Linked DNA regions of Homo sapiens. The protein of the gene in region 1 binds, or shares a complex with, the protein of each later gene. Each region holds a gene or a part of one and is shown on either strand. Other genes may lie near its edges. The genes, in order: ADRA2A and GNAO1. A codon is read from its position in the direction of its gene.

Region 1 (16,146 bases):
TCACAGGAACATCCTGTCTCCCCATGTAGCTCCAAAGCTTCCAGAGGGCAGAGGCAGGCCCTAATCTCACTCCACAGGGACAAGTGGTGAGCTTTGCACAGTGCATGCAGGGAAGGAAGAGAACTGCCTTGCAATGCCTAGGATGGTCCTTGACACAAAGCAGGCACAGGGGATCCTCTGGGGTTGATTAGCAACTCACCACATCCCAAAACAAAATAGAATTCATGTTGGGTGCATATGGCATCAGACGGAGAGTCACATGGAAGAGTGGGCTCAGGGGCTCCTGGAATGCTACATAACCAACAGCTTTTCTAGGTCTCAGGTCCCTTGATCTGCCACTACAAGGTAAGAGTTAAGGATTGATGAGGATGCTTCTGGCTCTAAATCTCTGATTTGATTATACAGTCATAGACAGGGGAAAGCCCAAGCCACGTTTTCATCATTCTCTCCCCCAGCCTTTTAGCATAGAAGAAATTGAACAAAGCCTTGGGGAGGAGGAGACTGTGCTTGTGCCCAGGCTCAAATGAAGGCACTACCCTTCCCCCAACCCAGCACACTTGCACGAGTAAATCTAGCAAGACACACTTCAGACCCAAAAGCCAATGGCTTTCAATATCCCAACCAAAGTTACATAAAACAGGAGATTCGGCCACGAAGACAGACCCTCTTGGCCCAGATACTCGGGAACAGATACTATGCACAGGAAAATGTGGGGTTAGCTCTTTAAGCCAAGATCCCTGTGGGAGCCATTTCACCTTAATTTCCCTCCCCACCCCACACCTTGGCAGACTGTTGCTTGAGCCCTTTGCAAATGAATAAACAGTGATTCCTACTGTGAACTCAGAAACCCACCCATGCCTGGGCTCCAGCCCTCTCTCCCCCACTTTCTGCAACCTCCATCCACCTCTGAGGTTTCTCTGCTTCTGTATCGAGGAGGAGGGAGCATGACACCAGAGGCCCCTCCGTGTAGCACCTCAGCCCATGCTTCTTCCCCCTCGGCGGGTGGAGGCAAGGCAAACACTTCCCTGACAGACAGGACAGAGCTGAGAGTCAACAGCAAGCAGTATTTGTATCTGCTCCTGTGGCTGGGACACACAGCCTGGGTCCTGGGGGCTCGCCAGGCAGGCTGTTGTCTGGCACTGTTTGCCTTTGGGGCAATGGGTACACTGGAGTGAGGAGGGAGAGGAGAGGCTGGGGTGAGGGTGGGATGGGGAGCAGGCCACAGAACCAGACCAGGGAGCCAGCCGTGGCACCACAGGCCAGGAGGCTGTTTTCTGAAGCCTCTGAGCCAGGGTCACTGGAGCCCAGCACCTGGCCATCCTCCTGTGTGCCGGCTCAGAGGATCCAGGTGACGGCAGGAACTCCTCACCCCCTCAGAGCCATGGTCTTCCCTCTCCCAGGCCCCTCAGTGCCCAGATCATTTCTCAGGGCTCTCTACCCTCCCACTGCTGCATACACAGACACCCTCTCCTGCACGAGAGAAGCAAAGGAAGATGAGGAGATGCTGCATGGCCCAGAGGGTGCAGAGGACCTGCTTCTGGGGGGTGTCCAAAGCTGGTCCGCACATATTACAGGTGACTGGGCTCACAAAAGCTGGCCTCCCCCAAAACCACAACCTGACGCTTGTGTTTGCCCCTCAAACCCCCCTCCTCCATAAGTGGCTATTCATCAGTACTGCATCTGACTACACACACAGAACTACTACTACACATCTCTCAGCTGCGCCCTAACCCGGGCAGCCTGGAGCCAGAGCCCTGTCACCTAGCGCCTTGGGATCCTGAGCAAGTCGCTTCCTCTTGCATCTGCATTTGCCTTCTCATCTGTCAGATGAGGGGTTGGACTCCTGGATCACTAAGGCCCCTTCCAGCTTCAAAGTGCCATTACCATAGTATGAGGGCCATAAGCCCTCCTAGACAGCAGAGCAGACTTTGATATTATAGCAATGCAACAAGAAGGATGCATGCCTTCTGGCCAGAGACAACTCAAACCACCAACTAATACATGGTTCTATTCAGGTTTTAGACCATACTTAGTGCATAACCACACTATGGAGTATATGCTACATGTCATATATTATCATGCTTTAAGGTGTGATATACATTTTGGAGTATATTCCACACTTGGTGCATATACCACACTTTGGAGTAGATACACACTTTGAGGTATATAGACACATTAGGTCATGTAGACACTGGGGTATGTATACACCTTGTGTATATTAAATACTGGGATATATCTCACACCTGGTATAGATAGCACACTGCATAGACACCTCTCCACTGGGAGTGTTCTGAGAAGGGCTAATGCCAAAACTCTGGAAAGGTTCTGGGGTTAAGAGTGCAGGCCCTAGAACCAGATAAAGCTGGGTACGATGCATTTCCACCACTTGTTAACCTTGAGCAAGGTTAACAAACTTGCTCTGAGACTCAGTTTCTTCACCTGTAAAATGGGGATAGTAATAAAACTTACCTCATAGCGTTCTTGAGAAAAGTAAACGAGGCAATGCCTACAACCAGTTCACCACAGTGTCTAGCATGTCAGAAACACTTAGTAAATGGTAGCTTTGTTACTGATGGAACGTTTAAAAAATTTTTATAATGTACATTTTTTATTTTTAAAAAATCCATAAAATCAGATGTTCCCAGAGTCTTAAAGCTTTTGAAAACTCAGATAACAGACAAGAGGACCACTCCATTCATATTTATTTCACATTTGATCTGTAAACTTTTTTATTTAAAAAAAAATCCACTGTCATTAGCAACATGTGCTGACATTAGTTTTTCTTTAGTGAAATAAGAGTGCAGGCCTTAAATTGTCTCTGTCTAAAACATGTAGAAATGCAGATGTAAACACAAAGTCTCTGCCCTCCTCCCCTGACTTTGGCAGTTCATCAATGACATGATCTCAACCAGAAAAGCACGGAGGGGGGAAAGGACAACATTTTGATACCTAACAGCTCTTGGGGAAGAAACTGTACAGTTTGGCAGGCCCATTTGTCTTTTCAAACTGTTTACCTTGGGCAAATTGTATCAGGTTTGCTTCTTCCACATAATTTCCACTCCTTGGAGTCTAAAAACAGCAGCTAAAAGATTTCCCCATAGTCAGCACTTTCGGGGCAGGAGGGGCACACAGACATACAAGATAGAAACATACATATTCTTCTTCAAGCAGTGGCCCTGGAGGGAGAGAGGGAACACTGGAAAGAGAGGTTTTAAAGTGAGTTACTGGGGCAAACAGTGCATCAGAGAATAATGGCTTTATACACAGGGCTGATGTGAGGCAGAAAGGCTCATTTACTTATGTCTTGATCCACCATCATAATATTTACATAGGAAAAGGCAATTATGCTGTTAGGCACAGGAAAAAAATGGACAGAAATCTTTTCCCTGTCAGGAAATCTCAAAGCAGGTCCGTGTCGAAGGGACAGTCACCAGTTGCTGGTGAAAACGACGACATAGAGGGACTTCATAACACCAGAAAGGGCTTGCATTGCAAAGGGGCTTGGCCTGAACCAGACAGCTGTGTCTGCCTGGAAGGCATCTCTCCCAAGGCCAGGATTTCAACATCAAAACCAAGGCCAAGAGATATGGGGGCCCCATGTGTGCTATCAAAAATAGTGTATATTTACAGCGGGGGATGGGGAGGGCAGGCAGGGCTGCCCTTAGCATTTTTCTTTAAAAAGAGAGAGAGAGTTGGGAATGGAAGGGGAATTAGCCAGGGCTAGGTAACCCCCATCCATTAACCTTTTGTGAGCCATGCCCTTGTAGTCCAGTGCTTGCTCTGAAGAGCTGTGAGGGCTGTACCAGGCGAAGAGGGTGAAAATACCTTTAGGAAGCAATAGTGATTAGGGGTGGCCCACTAGGAAGATGGCTCCAGGTCAAGAGTGGCCAAACCAACAACTGGGGATGTGTGGGCCTGGCAGCAAGAAGCTTCCCTTGTAGGAGCAGCAGACGCCCGCCCGCAGGAGGCTGCAGAGCCACCCCAGACGAGGAAACGCAGAGCAGGCAGCGCCCGGGTTTCTGAGTGCCCTGGGGCTAAGCACCCCTCGATGCCCCCCGCTGCCTGCAGTCAGCGTGAGTCTACGCGGGCGCCAGCGGAAACCTCACACGATCCGCTTCCTGTCCCCCCGACAGAGGATCTTCTTGAAGGCGCGGCGGAAATCGTGGTTGAAGATGGTGTAGATGACCGGGTTCAACGAGCTGTTGCAGTAGCCGAACCAGAAGAAGAATTTGAAGAGCGTGCGTGGCACGGAGCACCCGACGGCCGTGAGCGTGTAGGTGAAGAAGAAGGGGAACCAGCACACCACGAACACTCCGATGACCACGGCCAGCACGAACGTGAAGCGCTTCTCGCGGTTCTGCCGCCCGCGCCAGCGCGACGCCTTGGCAGCCCCGACGCGCTCCTCCCCCGGCCCTGCAGCCGGCGTCCCGATCCCCGTCGCCCCCGGCCCGCGCCGCGGCAGGCTGTCGCCCGGCTTCACCTGGCTCGCTCGGGCCTTGCCTTTGCCCCGGGGACCGCGCTCGGGTCTGCGGGGCCCTGGAGGCCGCTCGGCGTGGTCGGAAGACGAGCTCTCCTCCAGGTCCAGCGCGTCGGTGTCGCGCGGCCCGGCCGGCGCGGGCTCGCCAGGGGCGCCGTTGAGCTGGGTGGGCAGCGGTTCGGCCTCTGCGCCCCCCGGGCCCGCGCTGCGCTCGGGGCCCAGACCGTTGGGCCTGCGCTCGGTGCCCCCCGGCGGCGCGGCGACGGCGTCCGGACCCCGGCGGCTGGGTGGCACGCGGGTGCGACGCTTGGCGATCTGGTAGATGCGCACGTAGACCAGGATCATGATGAGGCAGGGAGCGAAGAAGGAGCCGATGCACGACGAGATGACGTACCACTTCTGGTCGTTGATCTCGCAGCGCGGCTCGGCCGGCTGCGGGCCGCCGCCGCCGCCCTTCTTCTCGATGGAGATGAGCGGCGGGAAGGAGATGACGGCCGAGATGACCCACACGGTGATGATGATGGCCTTGATGCGGCGCGGCGTGCGCTTCAGGTTGTACTCGATGGCCTGTGTGATGGACCAGTAGCGGTCCAGGCTGATGGCGCACAGGTGCACGATGGACGACGTGCAGAAGAGCACGTCGAGCGCCAGGTAGATCTCGCACCAAGCCTTGCCGAAGTACCAGTAGCCCATGACCTCGTTGGCCAGCGAGAAAGGGATGACGAGCGTGGCCACCAGGATGTCGGCCGAGGCCAGAGACACCAGGAAGAGGTTTTGGGGCGCCTTGAGCGCGCGGCTCGTGAACACGGCGATGATGACGAGCACGTTGCCGAACACGGTGAGCAGCATGAGCAGGCCGGCCAGGCACACCAGCGTCAGCGTCACCTGCAGGGAGTAAGGGGTGGCCCGGGCGCCGCCCCCCGGCGCCTCGGTCCCGTTCCAGCTCGCGTTGCCCGCGTCCGGCTGCAGGGAGCCCATGGGCGCAAAGCTGCCCTCGGCCAACGGCTGCTCCTGGCGGAACATGAACGCGGGCGCCCGCTGGCCTGGGCCTGCTGCCAGCTGCCTTCCGGCCCGGCGCCCGTGGGTCCTCCTCTTCCTCCGGCGCCCCGCTCGCCTGGCTGCGGCTCACATAGGGAGGGGGCCGCAGGGAGGCCGGGCCCGAACTGGAGGACCGCTAGCGGCCCATGGCCCGGGTCCCGCGAACTGCGCCTGGCTCGCGCTTCAGACGCTCTCGGTGGGCGCCTTCTTGCTCCGAGCTCCTAATACAGCCAAGTTTTATTTCTAAGCGGCGGGAGAGAGTAGGGAGAGCCGATGGGTAAAGAGAGATTTATTCTTCAAGAAGGGAGAACAAAAATCATCGGTGGCCTGATAACTTGGAAGGATGACAGGAAATTAAATATATATATACATATCAATATCTGTATCTTGAATCTTGAGCCTGAGCGAAAGCAAGAGGTCTTACCGTGTGCGGGGCCCGCCCCCACCCCGGGAGGCAGCCGAAGGGTGCTGATGCGAGCTCGGGGGTCCTATGTCTGTCGCCTTACATCCCCGAAGCGATTACCGACTCTCTGGCTTCCCCCAGACGCTGCGGTTCTGGCCCGGCCCGGCCCGGGGCTGGGGCGCGGACTCTGCCGCCTCTCGGAGCGCCGCGAGACTTCCAAAGTTGTGCGCCCTGCTGGGGCTGGGGCACACTGTGCGGAGCTCCGGGACGGCGGCGGCGGCGGGGTGAGGAGTGTGGGGGCCGCATGAAGGCACCCCCGTCCTCAGGCGGGCCGGGGCAGGTGAACGATCAGCTCTCCAGGAGCCGCGACGGAGGCAGGGGTTCTCCTGGGCGTCCGCCTGGTGGGCGCCGAGCGCTGCTGGATGGGCCGGGGTCCGACGACAGCGCGAGTTGGGGCAGGAGCGCAAGGCGGGGAAGAAGGCGCTGGAGTGGCCGGGCGGCGGCACGCCGGCTGCTGGGCTTCTGCACCGAGCTGGAGCTGCTGCTGCTCCGCTGCGCTCACGGTGGACTCGTTTTATAGCCCCAGGATCAAGCAAGCGTTGCTGAGCAGCCGGCGTCAGCCCCCACGTGGGAAGCCGACCCTCCCCCGCCCCTCGCACCACCCCTCCGCCAGTCTAGCGCCCGCGCCTAGCGCTGGACCTCGGGGAGCGTTGCCCTCAGGCGGGACGAGCCCTTTGGAGAGGCGGGTACCTTGAGCTAGAGACTTAAAGAGGGAGCCCGGGGGTGGGGGGTAGGGGAGGAGCGGCCCCTGCTGGGAGTTGGCCATGCAGCTCCGGGCCGACGGAGCAGAACGCAACGGGCACCCGTGAGTGCCCCCAAGAAGCTGGATCTTGGGAGAAAAGGGAAGAAAAAAATGGAAGGGAATCCCCGCCCAAATCGAGGGAAGTAACCTCCGGTGTGAGTTACGTCTGGAGCAGCCCAGCTCCGGGCCAGAGCCGACGCGGTCCGCAGGTGCTCCTGGAGGCTGGGGAGAAAGGGGTCCTGGAGAGGGAGGAAGGCGCGGCTTCGGATGGAACCCCTGGGGCGGAATGGACAGCACCCACGGGGAAGTGGTACAAGCCGGAGTTCAGACCTCCGCTTAGGGAAGAAGCGGCTACGTGTCCTCCCAGCCGCGATGCTGTCTGCGGGAAACGCAAGACCCGGGGTCTGGACCGCGCCCCCTTAGACCGAGGTGGGGAGGGGTCCAGGAGCCGAGCGCCAGGGCAAAGCGAGGACGCACTGACACCTGCTGGCCGCTCGTGGTCACGGCTGAGAAGCGACCCGCTGACGCCAGGCGCCTCCTCCCGTCTCTTAGGTCTTCTGCCAACAGAGCCTTCTCCTATCTCCGAACAAATTGGTTTCTAAGCTCAGGAAAGGAGAACCCAGAGTTTGAATTGCACCCTGCCGTGTTGCAGAAATCTTCCTAAAGCAGATACTCGTGTGTCTACCCCTGGCGGGAGTGGGGGTTTGTCTAATAAAGTCACATCAGGAAGGGCTCAGCAGGCACCGCCGGCCAGAACGGGCATCCCACTCTGGACCCGCACAGCCCACCCTTCCTGCAGATCCGAGAGAGGCCAGGATCCTGCCTCCTTGGTTGCACAGCTCTGGCTTGCTGGGAATCATTATGTTTTTGTTGAGGACCGAAAGCTAGACTCCACTCCCGCCCCGCATCCCACCCCCATTCAGATGTACACACAGCATCCTTCAATAAGGGGAAGAGGGAGTAGAATATTTTCCATGTTCTCTCTGATAAGAATAGCGGTGGGGGCGGGGGGGAGTGGGTGTGCGGCGAATGGCAAGTTTTTCCGTGCGTGCTAGCTGTCCTAGGATAGATTTTAACGGTCACTAGAGCACTAGCTTGCACCCTGCTAGCTGCACTTTTCAGATGAGAGCAAGCAGTTTAATGGTAAAACCCAAGAGGGTAGGAAATTTCAGCAGGAGAGAGATTAGACTTAAAGGAATGTCGTCTTATTTAAGGAACCACTAAACCAAAATGCCTTGTGCAGTCACCTAAGTTGGAATTCCAAGGATGGAACAGGCTGCCTCTCTGTGCAGCCAGCTGCAGGCTTAGGTCTGGCTGGGGGCTGATGGCTAAATTAAGGGCCCTGAGAATCACCTTCATTCCCAGCTGATGTCTATAGCCCGCACCAGTGATACAGTTATTGGTGCTGCTGCTGTTCATGTAGTCTCAAAATCTGTACTTTCCAAAGTATTTCACAGAAGTCTCATTTGACTTCAGTACCTTTGTCTCCCAATCTTTGCCCTAATGGTATAAACTCCCTTTCCAGTGTTAGTTCTGAGGAGCCTTTCTAATCTCCCTTTCTGGACAATCTAAAGGAAGCTGAGAAGACAATTTCCTCGCTCTGTTGAGTCACTCATTTTCCATCTTCTACTAAAGTCTCTGCTCTGAGGCTCTTGGCAGGGGCTTTGGACATCGCCAGTAGGCTCAGTTGGAAACATGGCTACAGTCATTTTTGCACAGCAACTAGGAACCCCACACTTCAAGTATGAATACTAAGAGACAAAAATCAGAGCCCGTGGCAATCTGGGGTTTGCTGTGTTGCTGTTTGTAGAACTCGGGAACTGAGTCTTAGGAGACCATCACTTACCATCTGCACCCCAGCTTCCAACACACTGCTCTTCTTCCTAATTTCAGAATCAAAAGAGGAAATAAAAACAAAGTTTACAGTAATTATCTTTCTTGAAATTTCTGCTGCTAGCCTGTGTATGACACCTCTTGTCATATTTTCTAAATGCTTCCCAAACAGCCAGGTGGTTTCTTAATTCCCTGATTTGGAGTCTTTTCTCCTAAAATGGGAACAGGTCTTTTCAGAGCCAGGAACCCTGAGGCCAATACACAACGAATACCAATAATAACAAGTGCTGCATTTTATTAAGTACCATGATGTATGCACCATGTGTAGGGTGATATACATGGCCCCTTTATACACAGAGTTCTTATTCCTGTCACATGTTCCTTATCACCAAAGGTTCTGCCTCCTCAGTTTGTCACACAGGGTCAGTATCTCTGAGCTTTGAAAAGCTATGTGGACACCATTAATTTTTGCTAGAAGATTTCATGCTGTGCAAGCTGAGTGAGACATTGCTGAGCAGAAAGATATCCACAAATATAATAATTCTCAACCAGGCCTATAGATCAGCATTTCCTAGGAAGACAAAATACACTTACCAATGCCCCACCAGGGAAATTATTCACCAGGTCCAAGGTGGGATGCAGCATGTGTATTTTGACAAAACTCCTTGAGAGCTGCAGGTGTGCACACCCTGCTGAAGACTTACCACCCAAAGCAATAAATCTCAGTGGGGGACAGGAGTGATGAGCAAGTGCCCTTGTGGGGACAGGAGGCAGTGTCCAAATTACCCGGGGTAGGAAGCCAACTTGAGCTAGAAAGAGTGGGCCCCAGATTGAGAATCACTGCCCTGAGCCAGTGAGACTGCTATGACAGTGTCATAGCCCTCCAGGGAGCTGGGACAGAGCAAATAGTTGAGAGCCACTGTAAATATGGAGTTTGGGTTTGATGGCCTGAGAAGGAGTCATTTCTGGGGACCCAAATGGGGGTCCATTATTACTTATATTATTACTAAAAATAAATAGTACCTATTAGCACCAACCACATGCTAGGCACAATGCCAAGCAGTTTATGTACTATATATTATATAATTCCCAAAACAATCCCATAATGTAGATTTTATTATCTGCCTTTGTAGATGGAGGAAACTAGGCAACAGACTAAGTAAACTGTCCAGCTAATAAGTGGCAAGGACAGAGCCGAACTCTATTTTTCCTGGTGGTAAGCCCAATGAGCTTTCTAAGTTCCTTACTGTGAATCTCCAGCCTTGATCGCACTGCCAAAGAGAAACCTGCAAAATGTTCATCAGAAATGAGCACATTGACAAGTTAGCACATCCTCCTTCTAGCCCTGTCCTTTCAGTCCATTGATGTCTACTAGATTAGGACAGTACAAGGCAAGATGTATTCCCTCTTTCTGTATCTAATGCCCACTCTTGGAGGCAACGTCACATACACTCTAGGAGACTGACCATTCCCCAACAGCCAAGCTGATGGAGAGCAAGCACTACACCAACTGGTTAGGCAACCCCTCCTCCTCCTAGTAGAAGCAACCTCTCTCTCTCATGGGTGCCATACATATTTTATCATGGCTTAGATGGACTTTTCTTGCTCTAGCTTATCTATTCATTTGTATGATGATCTAGCAGGTAGAAAGGACTGTCCTTTTCATCTCTATTCCTAGAGCATCTCTAAAACAGGCTTTTTAAAAATCATATTTCTAGTACCTACTCCTTGGAGATTCTGATTCAGTAGGATGAAGGCGGGGCCTGGGTGTTTGCATTTTTAACAAGTGCATGAGTAATTCAATAAATACCAAAATATAACACACAGAGCATGGATACTTGATAAATGTGTGATGGATGAATGTATGAATGAATGAATTCTACTTACACTGAAGCTATCAAAGAGGCAAGAGGGGCCCAGAAGTTGGTGAAGTTGGTGACTACGATGGCTAGCATTTTATTCCAAAATCAGGATTTCTTAATAGTTGAGGTAGCTTAACTAGTTCAAGGATATAAGTATAGGATTCTCTCATTCTCTTTTTTCCTAAAAGGAATATGTAAGTAGAGGAAGATAAATTTATAACTATCAGCTAGGTAATTTGCCAATAAAAGAAAGCTTCTTAAGATAAATCATCTGTCCTCATGTTATATCTGAAACTAAAGTATCAGGCAATACCAAAATTTGTCTTGGCTTCTATGTCTTTGATGGTGACTTCATCTAACAAAAGTGAGGGAGCTGGCTGGGAGAGAATATTAATTGCTTACTTTTTGAAAAAAAAAGACTTGACTGTCTAAGAAAAAGAAAACATGACTCATTTAGCCTGGACTCCTAGGCTGTGACAAAATCCTCACAGATAGAAGCAATTTGGTCACACACACACATAAACACAGGCCACCCCCCCACCCACCCACCCCTGCCCCCACCACAGCCTGAACTTAAACACACACTTGCTAGTCTGAACATGATGAACAGGTGGGGAATGCAATGTTCCCGCTACTACTCATGCCGTGTGCACAGCTGGAACCAAATGCTGCAGTAAGCTACAATCATCTGTCAACTCACTGTATTGCTGACAAGGGGAAGGGGGGAGTCAATAGGGAAAACTCTATTGCTTCCTCTAAGCTATTACTTAATTCCTCCACTTCTTTGTACCTGTGCTGAAGCCCTTGGGAATCCCATCGTTATTGAAGGTTAATGGAAGCCAAAAGAAAAGCATCAACTCCAGGGGTGCTGTAAGGAGCTGCCTTATTCACCACCTACCATGTTCATCATTTGACTGCTGGATCAGTCTTGCTGTATTCACAAAAACAAGCGATGAGTCCTGCCATCGCCTTTATCTCTTTCTAACGTGCTAACCCATCCTGCCCCAGCCTGGAAAATTAAGCCAGGTGTTTTCTATCTCTGCAAGGGCTTCTGGCCAATACCAAAAAGACAGCACTTGGTACTAGGATCAACTCAACCTTGAGGATGCCAAGAAAGATTGGGCTCCCAGCTGGCTCTTCGCTGGTGTGCCACCCTGCAGGGCATGTTTGTGTTGCCACTACAATGTGACTTTTGAGAGCTTGTGTGTACACACAAAGTTTAACATCACCTACCACAGTCTTCCAAGTCAGTCCTCACAAAGCAGTGACCTTTTCCACCACATCCAGGTGAATTATCTTGTCTGCTTTGTCCAGAAGCATGAGCAAAAGCAAACCTTGAAACAGTTATGGTGAGCAATGCTTACTTGTTCTCAGGTATAACAGGTGAGCTAGAGCCACTGGGTATGAAGGAGATATTTGTCACCAACATTAATAACTCTTAAGCTAATATTCCATTAATCTAATTAGGTAAGGTAAATCACCTTTCACATTTACTCAAAGAAACCATGGAGACGCCACGCCTGAAGCATATACACCCATGCACACACACACACACACACACACACACATGCACACAGACATATTTAAGAGATGGTCTGGCTCTCACTGCTCCCTGGAAATGATCTTTTTTTCCCCATTTTTCCTAATTGATAACACAAAGCACAAACTCTTCCTTGGTAAAAGGACCACGGCCTGATAGTTTCTGGGAGGCATTCAAGTGAAGTCGTTAAGAATTTAGGCTTTAGAGTAAGAGAAACCTGAGTTCTGGTCCTGCTTCTGCCATTTCATAACTATATTTACTTAACTTCTCTAGACTTCAGTTTCCTCATATGGAAAAAGGGGAAATAATTTCACATATCTCATGCATATCCTCAAAGATTAAATGTGTGAATACATGGAAAATACATAAGACAGTGTTGGGTTTAATTGGTGCTCAGACCAGCCTGGCCAACACGGTGAAACCCTTTCTCTACTAAAAATACAAAAATTAGCTGGGAAAGGTGGCGTGTGCCTGTAATCCCAGCTACTCAAGAGGCTGAGGCGGGAGGATTACTTGAACCTGGGAGGCGAAGGTTGCAGTGAGCCAAGATTGCACCACTGCACTCCAGCCTGGGCAACAGAGCAAGACTCTGTCTCAAAAAAATAAATAAAATAAAAAATAAAAAAATAAATCTAGAGAAAGAGAAGAGAGTTGGAATCTCAAAGCTGATGGAAGCTTGAATAGGATAAAGAGGTGAATGGTTTTTTAGGGTGATTTCTTCTGCAATTCGAGCCAACCCAAAGTGCCTAAAATATAACAGAAAATGGATTGATTCACATAAATGAAATTTATTTTAACCTGAGGCAGAGCTGGCTTTGGGCAAGATGGATGCAGTAACTCAGTACTGTCACTAAGAAGCTGATAACTTTGTGGAGAAAGAGGATTAAGCAAATAGAGAGTAATAAATGTAAGGAATCATGCAAGCCTCCCCACCAAAAAAAAAAAATTATATATATATATATGTATGTATGGGAAAGAAGCTGCCTTGGTTTCTCCTAGCACTCCAAATTCCAAATGTTGTTGCTAGGAAGTTGAGATGAACCTCTTGCTTCTTTTTCTTGGATTCCATGAGATTTCAGAGCCCACACAACTACTTCCCCTTTTACTTCAGCCTCTTGGAGTTGTTTTCTATTTTGTGCAACCAGAATATTTGACCAGAATGAATGCTAGAGCCTTAACTTCATAAAAATAGTTTTCATCTTCAATACGCCAGATTCCATGCTAGACAATGATCATATAATCATCAAAACATAACTTCCAATAACTTCTATACACTGCAAAGTCTTTGAGAGGAATCTTTTCTGTTAGTGTTACATATATTCAAAAAAATTAAATAACAGTTTTGATTTTAAGCACCAAATATTTTCAGTTGATGATGGCACTCTAAGTTTATGCTTCTTCTTTTCTTAGAGATGGAGACTTGCTATGTGGCCCAGGCTGGCCTCAAACTCCTGGGCCTCAAGCAATCCTCCCAGGTAGCTGGGTCTACAGGCCTACGCCACTGTGCGTGGCTTAAACTCAAGACTTTGAAGCACCCCTTTGTCCAATCATGTAGAAATGAAAGATAAACAAAAGAAATTTTAAAAGATAGACCCACTCCCGATGCCAAGCAAGATGGAGCAAGTCTATTACAGCCTCTCGGTCCAACTAAACAGCACAACTAAAACATCTGGAAAATTCAAAAAGCAGCTATCTGAAAGGCAGACAGTAACAGGGAGAGTGGAAAGGGAAAACAAAAATTGAGGAAGAAAGCCTCATGAGAGAGTTTCCTATTGATTTTTTTCCTCTTTTGTCTCTCACGTTTGATCCACGGAAGGCCTCAGTTGTGGAACTGAGCACCCCAGCCGGTATGAGCAACTCAGAGGGTGAAGCTCCCTCTTTTGACAGAGAATGGTGGAGAGGTCCACTGTGAGCTAGGAAATGTGGAGAAACTCTCTGAACATTTTTTCTTATTTGTCTTGTTTTTACTCTCCTCACCCTGCCACTAGAGTGGCCCCAAATAGGGAAATGTGCAGTAGCCGTATAGGCAGCTACAACTTTGAGGAGGAAAAAAAAGGTCTTTTCTGGCAGTAGGAACAGGGAAAGAAAGACCCTGTGCTCTAAAGGGCAGAGCCGGGGAGGGATTTCAGGACTCTTACTGTCTTTTTTTTTGCTCTTTTACCTTACCACTCTGCCCAGGGACTGAATCAGTCATGCAGAACTGGTGGCAGGATCATGGGTAACTAAAACTCTAAAAGAAACCTATCTTTCTGTCCAGAGGAATGGGACAATGGGTCCCTGGGAGACCAAGATTACATACGGGAACCCAAAGAGAAAAGAGCTGGAGAAGGGAATCCTCTAAGCCTTGTGTCTGATCAGGTGTAAGTCCCAGGCCCACCTGTGACCTGTGCATGCGTGTGACCAATGGCAGGCAGGATCCTGCCAAGGTTCATACCCCCAACATCAAAACACTGGTTACAGAAGGGGAGATGAGACCTGTGATTTGAAACCAACTACTAGGTTGATTTCCTGTGAACATAAACCAAACAGATTTTCACAGGACCAAGAGTAATAATCATAATGTCCAAGACAGAATCCAGAATTGCTCAACATACAAAGATCCAGCTAAATGCTGGGAAGGGAGAAATGATGAACAGATGTTTAACTTGAGATGTTAGAATTAATTATCTGACAGAGTTTAAAGTAACTATTATAACCAGGTTGCAAGAGGTAAAGGTAAGTATTCATTAAGTAATTTAAAAGATAGAAGTTCTCTGAAATAGACATGCTAAAGAAGAACTGAATGCCAAATCTTAAAACTAAAAAATTCATTCAAAAAATTAAATCTCACTGGAAAGGCTCTGTATGGGTCTCCTAGGGATGCTGTAACAAATTACCACAAACTGAGTGGCTTAAAATAATAGACACATATTCTCCCACAGCCTTGGAGGCTAGAGGTCTGAAATCAAGGTATCAGTGGGGTCACATGCCCTTCGAAAGTTCTAAGGCAGAATTCTTCCTTCCCTCTTCCAGCTCCTTGTGGCTTTTTGCATTCCTTGGCTTGTGGCAGCATCAGTCCAATATCTGTCTCCATCTTTACATGGCCTTCTTCCTTCTATGCTTTTCCTATCCAAATCTCCCTCTTCTTTCCTTATAAAGACAAAAAGTCACTGGATGTAGAACCCACCCTAAATCCAGGATGATTTCATCTTGAGATCCGTAACTAATTACATCTGCAAAGATCCTATTTCCAAATAAAGTCATATTCTAAGGCTCTGGTTCAACATGAGTTTGTGGGGAACACTATTCAACCCATTACAGGCTCAGTAGCAAAAACAGAGAAGACAGAGGAAAAATTCAGTGAATCTGAAGATAAATCAATAGAAACACTAAAGGAAGTTGCTCAGTCTGAAGGGAAAAATAAGAGGGAAGCTTGAGACCTCAGGAATGAGGGAGTAACAACAGAAATGGGAAATATTTAGCATACTCATTGGCTAAGGCTGCCATAACAAAGTACCACACACTGGGTGGCATAAGCAATAGAAAATGTTTGTCTCATCATTCTGGAGGCTAGAAGTCTAAGATCAAGGTGTCAGCGGAGATGCATCCCCCCGATCTCTGCCTTCGTCTTCACATGGCGTTCTCCCTGTGCTTGTATCTTTGTGCCCAAATTTTTCCTATTTCATATTGGACAGAGGCCTTCCTAAAGACCTCATTTTAACTTGATTACCTCTATAAAGCCCTTATCCCCAAATAAGCACATTCTGAGGTACTGGGGGTTAGGACTCCAACATATCTATTTTTTGAAGGGCACAATTCAACCAACACTTGGGTATCTATAACGAGGGTAAATATATTTTTTCCTTATGAGTTCTTTAAAATATGATTGATTTTAAGATAAAAATTACTACATCTGGTAGGGCTTTCAATGCATACAGATGTAACATATATGACAATTATAGCATGGACAGTGTAAAGCAATTTATATAGTTATAAGTTTTCTACATTTTAATTTTTCCAGCTTTATTGAGGTATACATGACAAATAAAAATTGTAAATATTTAAGTGTACAATATGATTTTGATATACATATACATTGTAAAATGAGAATCACAATCAAGCCAATCAACATATCTGTCAACTCACATAGTTACAATTCTTTTGTGTAGTGAGAACACTTAAGATAACTATCTTAGCAAATTTCAAGTATAC
Region 2 (7,000 bases), on another chromosome or scaffold:
GTTCTGAGGACGGAGTGTGTTCACCAAATCCTTTGTACGCTAAGTACTACTCCCGTGTGCAAGGTGGCGGTGACGGTGCAGTCCTGGGATGTCTGCAGGAGCCTTCTTATCTTCAAAGACCACCACACTCCTGGTTGTGATGTTACATGCATGTGATTGTAGTCTTTGAAAAGGCGACCCCACTTTGGTATCCAGGATGAGGGGAAGGGGAAGAAACCTGTTAATTATGCAGTACTTTTTCTGTAATTTCAAGAAGGCTCAGCCTACACGTGTGCACCTTAAGCAAATTCATCTACACCCACTCAGACAAGGAGGAAGGGAGGAGGCAGAGGAGGAGAGTGCTCCAAGCTCATTACCTGTCCTTTCCCATTTCCATGTTTCACCTGACCTAGGAGCTTCCCCTGCCCCCAGAGAAAGGTAGGCCCCAGGTCACAAACAAATCAAGAAAAATTAATAAAATGGACTTTTGGCTTTGAGCAGTCCAAGGGCCAAAGTTCTTGAGATTTAGTGTTGGCATGAGATATTTTTGCCATCTGCACTAACTTGGCAACCAGCCCCTCCCCTCCCCCAGTCCTGAGGCACAGCCCCGCTGTGGCCCATCCCTCAGCTAACCGGAATTCTCTACCGAAACGTCTGCTCCTCTACATAGCCCAGTTCTAGGGACTGCATTCCACCCTGTGTAAGAAGTATAGAAAATTACAGCTCAGCCAAGAACATTGATTTTTTTCTCCCCCGAACAAAATAACCGAGTTTTCAGGATGAAAGCAGAGCTGCTGGTTGAGTTGGAGGGTGGAGAGCAGAGCCAGGCCCACTCTGCCTTCCTGCTGGTTGAGTTGGAGAGTGGAGAACAGAGCCGGGCCCACTCTCCCTTCCTGCCCCAGAAAACTCTGGGGCCCCATGGGCTGCAGCTTGGAGCTCCTGCTTTAGGACATCCATGTGGTAGAAGGCCCCACGGGCCCCAGGAACCCCAACTGTGCATGCTCAGGTCGTGGCCCTCCCTGGAGCAGGCTGTGGGCTGAGCTGCGGTCCTGCTGCACTGGCTGGGCTCTCATCACAGTCCCCGCTAGGGGAGAGCCCTTGGCTGGCAGAGGTCTTCTGTCCCCACCAAAGCGTCAAAGCCCACCATCCACCTCTCCTCACAGGCTGACGCCAAGATGGTGTGTGATGTGGTGAGTCGGATGGAAGACACCGAGCCCTTCTCTGCAGAGCTGCTTTCTGCCATGATGCGGCTCTGGGGCGACTCAGGAATCCAAGAGTGCTTCAACCGGTCCCGGGAGTATCAGCTCAACGACTCTGCCAAATAGTGAGTGTCCCAGCGGGCGCATGGCCTGGAGCCGGGCAGTGATGCGGGAGTGGAAGGGACTGGTGATGGGGATTGGCAGAGCAAGGAGGATTCTCGGCTGAGGTCACGCCTGCCGGGAGATGTTCTCCCATAGGTAGAGGGTGTCAGGAAGGAATGAGAAGGGGCCTCTCTTCCTGCACCCCAGGAGGAGAAAGAGGCCAGAGGAGGCAGAGGACGCAAGAGACAACCAAACAGTGGAAATTCCCAGAGGGCCGGGACCTTGTCACTGGCTTGTCCTGGAGAGTGCCTGGCACTGCAAAAAGACAGCTTTCAAGTGTAGCAGCTTTGTTTTTTTATAGGGAGCCCCTGACCGCATAAATACAAACCAAAACAACAGCCATATAGGCAGAAAAGAAATGGTGCCATTTTGTTTTATTTTAGAAAAAATAATAAGCTTTCCATTCCCCATCTTTAAAATTAAGAATAAGGAATATGTAAGTCTAATTAATATAATAAATGTATACTTTAATACTATTTATAACTAAATAAGGGGGATGACAGGAGGGCAGGAGGACGGAAGGAAGAAAGGAAGGGGAGAGAGGGAGAAAGAAGAGGACAGAAGAGAAGACGGAGAGGTGGGAAGTGGTAAAAGCTGGAGCTGGTTAGAAGGTGCTCCCGGCTCTTCCCATCACAGCAGGTCACAGGTCCACTGGCTGCAGCTTTATCACTCTAGGCATCTCCAAGGACATCCTCACTGCTTCCGTGCCCTTGGCCTCTAGATTGGAGGCTCCAGAGCCCTGGGATGGTCAGCGTTGGTCAGGGACATGTCTTCTGTCATGGAGATACTGGGATTGCCCCCTTGGCTTTCGGGAAATGCACCCCACCTTTGCAATTGCAATCTGGTACCCATACATTCAGTGGGGGCTTTCTGCAAGGAGCCCTTGAGCTTTATCCCACTAGCTGGGAAGATTCTGACATGATCCAGTCCAGCCATTTTCACCAGGTCTCAGCTGGGGCCTTTTTGCCTCCAGGGGACATTCAGCAACATCGGGAGACATTTTTGATGGCTGCAGCTAGAGTGGTGCTCCCGGCAGCTAGCAGGTAGAGGCCAGAGATGCTGTTAAACACCCCATAGTGTGCAGGACGGCCCCCACAACAAAGAGTTACGTGGCCCCAAACATCCATAGTGCCAAGATTAAGAAACCCTGATCTACGCAATGCCAATGGACAGAGGCTGAGGCCAATGTTCACTCCTGGACATTTCCACGGGCCACATGGCAGCCAACAGACTAGGGACTTGAGCAAGGCCGGGAGCGGCTTCCCATTTCTGCACACCTAGATTGTCCAGAGGGCAAATGCCGAAGTCCTGTGAGTCCCAGGTGATGACTACCTAGGCCCCCGGGCCTGATGAGCTCCCAGGGACACCCTGGTGGTCAGGGCAGTGAGCCCAGAAGCTCAGTGTCCACCATTCCGTATGCACAAATCACAGACCAGAGCTAGGCAGGAGAGAGTGACTTTCAGCTGCCCTCCTCCCTTCTTCCACTCCCTGTCCCTGCCCTGGAGTCCAGGGCCTCCTCCCCGAGGGCCAGCAAGACCCTCAAGGGCCTTTAGGGCCAGCTGGCCCAAATCTGTCTTCTAGTGGCTCAGCAAATTCTGCTCTCCACTTACATTTTTACCCATTTCACTAATTATAACATGAATCCATTACCAAAAAAAAATTAAACAAATGCAGAGGGATGTAAAATGAGAAGTAATCTTCCTACTCCCCCCACCAGCCCTGCCCCTCCCACTTTTACCCACTTCCATTTATTTGTCCCAGTGGCATCCAGAAAAACTTGATCCTCTGACTCAAAATAGTATTTACTGCCACCCACTCTGGAATCGAGGGAGCTCAGCTCACCTTCCTTCCTTCCATCGCTCTCCACCTTCACCTCCGGCTTTTTGCTAGTTACAGGATTATTTTTAGTTCTTCCGGTGCTTACCTTTATAACTTTAAATAAGAAACTTGAGTCAGTATTTGTCAACTCCCCACCAAGTAAGCTGAGGAAATTCTCCTCCCTGCAGCCTCATCTCTGCCTTCTTTCAAATTTTCCACTTCCCAGGTTGATGATGTTACCATTCTCTTCTGTCACTGTGGCTGGGCCTTCCGTGTCTCCCCTCTGGGAGAGGGCAGGAAAGACAGGGGACACACAGGTGGCCAGGGCCGGAAGGGCCTGGCACATTTCCTGTCTTAGCAGTTAGACCTCAGCTTCTGACAAAGTCTTGGGCCCAGTATAGAAAGCAGATCAGAGTAGGTTTGTTGTGCTGGAAAGGAGAGGGAGGACTCACAGGGCTGCCACAGCACGTGCTTCCAGGGGGTGCCATTGACACCCTAATGCCCCAACCACCAAAGCACTTCTCTGCCCAGCCCTTTACAGGGGAGGGACCAGGGCACAGGCTCCTGAGCAGGCTCTTGGTGCACCCCGGCCTCTGTGAACAGGGCTGGCTCTCCCTTCTGGATAACTACCTAGAGGCAGGTCCCAGAAACCCTGGGCACATCCAACCAGGGGCTGTGAAAGGTGCTCTGGGGCCTGGTTGGCATTGGCTTTCCTCAAATCCAGTTCCCCACTGAGTTGTCCATGCTGGCGTCCGACGTTTCCTCTCCTCACCTTCTCTCTTGACCCCACTCCTATCGAGCTCTTGCTCCTCCGCCTGCTGAGATGGCTCATAGCCCAGTCCTATCCTGGGGGCTGCTCCATCAGCCTCCTCCCACTCAGGGTTCAGGGTTCAGTCCCCTAGTACCTGGTACCTCCTTTCACTCCCAGCCCCCGCCTCCTCTCGGGCCGCCCTTTCCAGACTCCCTCGATGCCTCCTGCCCACCCACCCAGGCAACTGGTGATGGGGGAGGTCTGCTGGGGGCTGCTGTATCCCGTCCCCAAGCTCCATCCCAGAAGCACCTCCTCTCAAGGCCTGGTGCCTGGTGACCTTCTCCTGTCTCGTTTTAAACACCTTGTACACTTGGACAACTCTCAAATTCATATCGCCAGCCCAGCCCTCCCTCCTGACTTCTGCCTACTCAGTGCCTGTTTGGACATCAAATGAGTCTCAAGTTAACATGAGCCCGTGGAACCCCTGGCTCCCATCCTCCCACTAGAAGCTGCTCTGTGTGCTCCTCCCTCCCTCTAAATGTGTCTCATTCCACCACGTGGAGGTATCTCTACTTCTGCTCGTCCTCCTGTATCCCACACCGAGGCCACCAGCAGATGCAGCTCCCCTGGCAGGTACATCAGATTCTGACCACTCACACCCTCCACAGCCACCCCCACTGTGCCAGTGCCATCTGGTGACGACAGCAGCTCTGCAGGCCCCACCCGCTGACCTGCTCTCATGGCAGCAACAGGGCCGTTGTCAACATGCTTCTGGCCAGAACCCTCGAGGGGCTCCCATCTCACTCAGAGCAAAAGCTCAAGCCCTGACAATGACCTCAAGGGCCTGCTTGCCCCAGCCGGACTCTGGCCACCCTCACCTCCACCACCTTCCCCAGCCTCACCCACCACCTGGCCCCTCCACGTGTGCTTCCTGCCGCCATGCCTGCCAGTGTTTCCACTGGGCCACTCGAGGCCCACTTGCTCCCTCATTCCCCTCAGTCTCCCCTATCCAGACGCCTTCCCCAACCACCCTGCATCAAATAGCAGCCCCCAGCAGCTCTCCCCCATCACTAATAGCCTGATTCGTTCTCTCACACTACCTCCTGACATATCATCTCTCTGACTCTTCTGTTTACCACCTCACACACGTGTGCACACTCACTTGGAACACAGGCCCTGGGAAGGTGGGGCTGTGTCGACTGCCCCATCCCCAGCTCCTGGAACAGTGGCTAGGTGGGATGGACAGCAGGTGCACAGTCAGCCTTCCCGACTGGGTTGTTAAGCAGTTCTCCCACACCTTGCCCACCCTCCACAGCCGTCTCCTTGCATGAGGCTCGGCCAGCACAGAGAGGCCAGAGGGCCAGGTTGCCCATCTAAAGGAGGTTTGCCCTGGCTGGGAAAGGAAGAGCAGGACCAAACGCTTCCAGGCTGGTGTCCAGCTGCAGATGACAGCAGAGGGCGTCCTCACAGCTTGGAAGCAGAGGTCATGGGCGCCAGGGCGGGGCAGGCACAGAGGCTTGGGAGAGGCTCCTTCTGGCTGAGACCAGAGCCTGCCCAGATGCCACTGGCTGGCGAGGAGGCTGTGAGGCCGGGGGCGTGTACAGGTCTGCTCTGCAGCCTCGGCTCTCTCACCCCATCCCCACACCGTTCCTGTCCACGGAGGGCAGTCAGGCTCAGGAGAGGAGGCCAGGAGTCCTGTTTAAATTTTTTTTCTGGATTTTTAAAATGCTGATGATGTCCAGTTTAAGAGCGTGGGGTCTGGAGCCAGTCAGAACTGGGCTGGAATCCCAGCCAAGTGCATTTTCTTTTTTTCTTTTTTTTTTTTTTCTCCCCGAGACAGAGTCTTGCTCTGTCACCCAGGCTGGAGTACAGTGGCACGATCTCAACTCACTGCAACCTCCGCCTCCTGGGTTGAAGCGATTCTCCTGCCTCAGCCTCCTGAGTGCTGGGATTATAGGCACCTGCCACCAGGCCCAGCTAATTTTTGCATTTTTAGTAGAGATGGGGTTTCACCATGTTGGCCAGGATGGTCTCAAAATCCTGACCTCATGATCCGCCCACCTTGGCCTCCCAAAGTGCTGGGATTACAGGCGTGAGCCACCGCACCCGGCTGCCAAGTTCATTTTCTCGCAGTGTGACTTCAAGCTTACCTCCCTGAGCCTTGGAAGCCACCCTTCTGTTTTCTTTTCTTAGGGGCATTCTCACAAGGATTGTCACTGGGTTCTATCAGTGAACACCCTAGCTGGCGAAGTCATCTGCCCTTTCCAGCCCTGTGGACATCCATGAGCTGGTCAGCATGCCCATCTCTCATGCAGTGGTAACTGCAGGTCCAGCCAGCAAGCTGGCCCCCAGCAGGTCCTGGAGCAGATGCAGCCTGGGACCCCACATCGTTCTGTGGTTCAGACACTTGGGGCTCCTCCCTGTGGGCTGCTTGTGGTTTGCCCCGGCAGCAGGGATGGGTGGCCTGGCAGGCTCCATGGATCACTGAGTCTTCCTTCAGGCCTGGCCCAGCTCCCCACTTCCTGATTTCCCAGATCCTACCCTGGCTTTAGGTTCAAACTTAACCCACAATGAACCCCAAAGCCCTTGCAGGCAGCGTCCTCTGAGTGCTTGGCCTGAGGCCTGGGCAGGTGACTTGCAAAAGCCTGGTCTGTCCCCACAGCAGGAGGTAGCAGGGGTAAAGAGCCCTGATTCCAAAGACCGGGTCCCAGGGAGGCCCAGCCGCTGTATGGCTGTGCAGCCCTGAGCCTCCAAGAGCATCAAATTGGAAGGGGCACACAGACCCCTTGGTAAGTGAGAAGGAAGTGTGGAGAAGGCAGGGAACTGCTCAGGGGCCGCTGAAGCCCCAGACAGTAATAAAATTATGGCCTCTGGAGCCAAGGGTCCGGGTCACAGCCTCAGGCAAGGTACTTACCTTCGATGAGCCCCAGTTTTAGTACATTTAACTCAGGGAAATTACACATGAAACATGGTTACACATGCAAAGAATAGAACCTATCTGTTGGCCATTATTATCTTTTAAATGAAAAAATGACAAAACAGTATTATAATAAACATGGTAGTCTCATATAAAAGCTTGATCTTGTCTGAG

What was found.
Region 2: the proteins of ADRA2A (region 1) and GNAO1 are in contact, whole or in part, in a cryo-EM structure (PDB 7W6P), measured with the Homo sapiens proteins. Residues at the interface, in NP_000672.3 of Homo sapiens: Arg77 (codon at 5,272), Arg146 (codon at 5,065), Ser149 (codon at 5,056), Ile150 (codon at 5,053), Ala153 (codon at 5,044), Ile154 (codon at 5,041), Asn157 (codon at 5,032), Leu158 (codon at 5,029), Arg160 (codon at 5,023), Pro162 (codon at 5,017), Ile234 (codon at 4,801), Ala238 (codon at 4,789), Arg241 (codon at 4,780), Arg383 (codon at 4,354), Arg386 (codon at 4,345), Phe387 (codon at 4,342), Val390 (codon at 4,333), Leu391 (codon at 4,330), Phe444 (codon at 4,171), Asn445 (codon at 4,168), His446 (codon at 4,165); in NP_066268.1 of Homo sapiens: Ile28, Lys32, Lys193, Asn194, Leu195, Asp218, Phe336, Thr340, Asp341, Ile343, Ile344, Ala345, Asn347, Leu348, Gly350, Cys351, Gly352, Leu353, Tyr354.

The regions. Positions count from the first base shown.
Region 1 is NC_000010.11:111,067,351-111,083,496, reverse strand, and holds ADRA2A (alpha-2A adrenergic receptor), read right to left. Parts: upstream 6,469-16,146; 5' UTR 5,501-6,468; coding exon 4,103-5,500; 3' UTR 2,590-4,102; downstream 1-2,589. UniProt on the Homo sapiens protein: Alpha-2 adrenergic receptors mediate the catecholamine-induced inhibition of adenylate cyclase through the action of G proteins.
Region 2 is NC_000016.10:56,327,489-56,334,488, forward strand, and holds part of GNAO1 (guanine nucleotide-binding protein G(o) subunit alpha), read left to right. Parts: intron 1-1,142; coding exon 1,143-1,303; intron 1,304-7,000. UniProt on the Homo sapiens protein: Guanine nucleotide-binding proteins (G proteins) function as transducers downstream of G protein-coupled receptors (GPCRs) in numerous signaling cascades.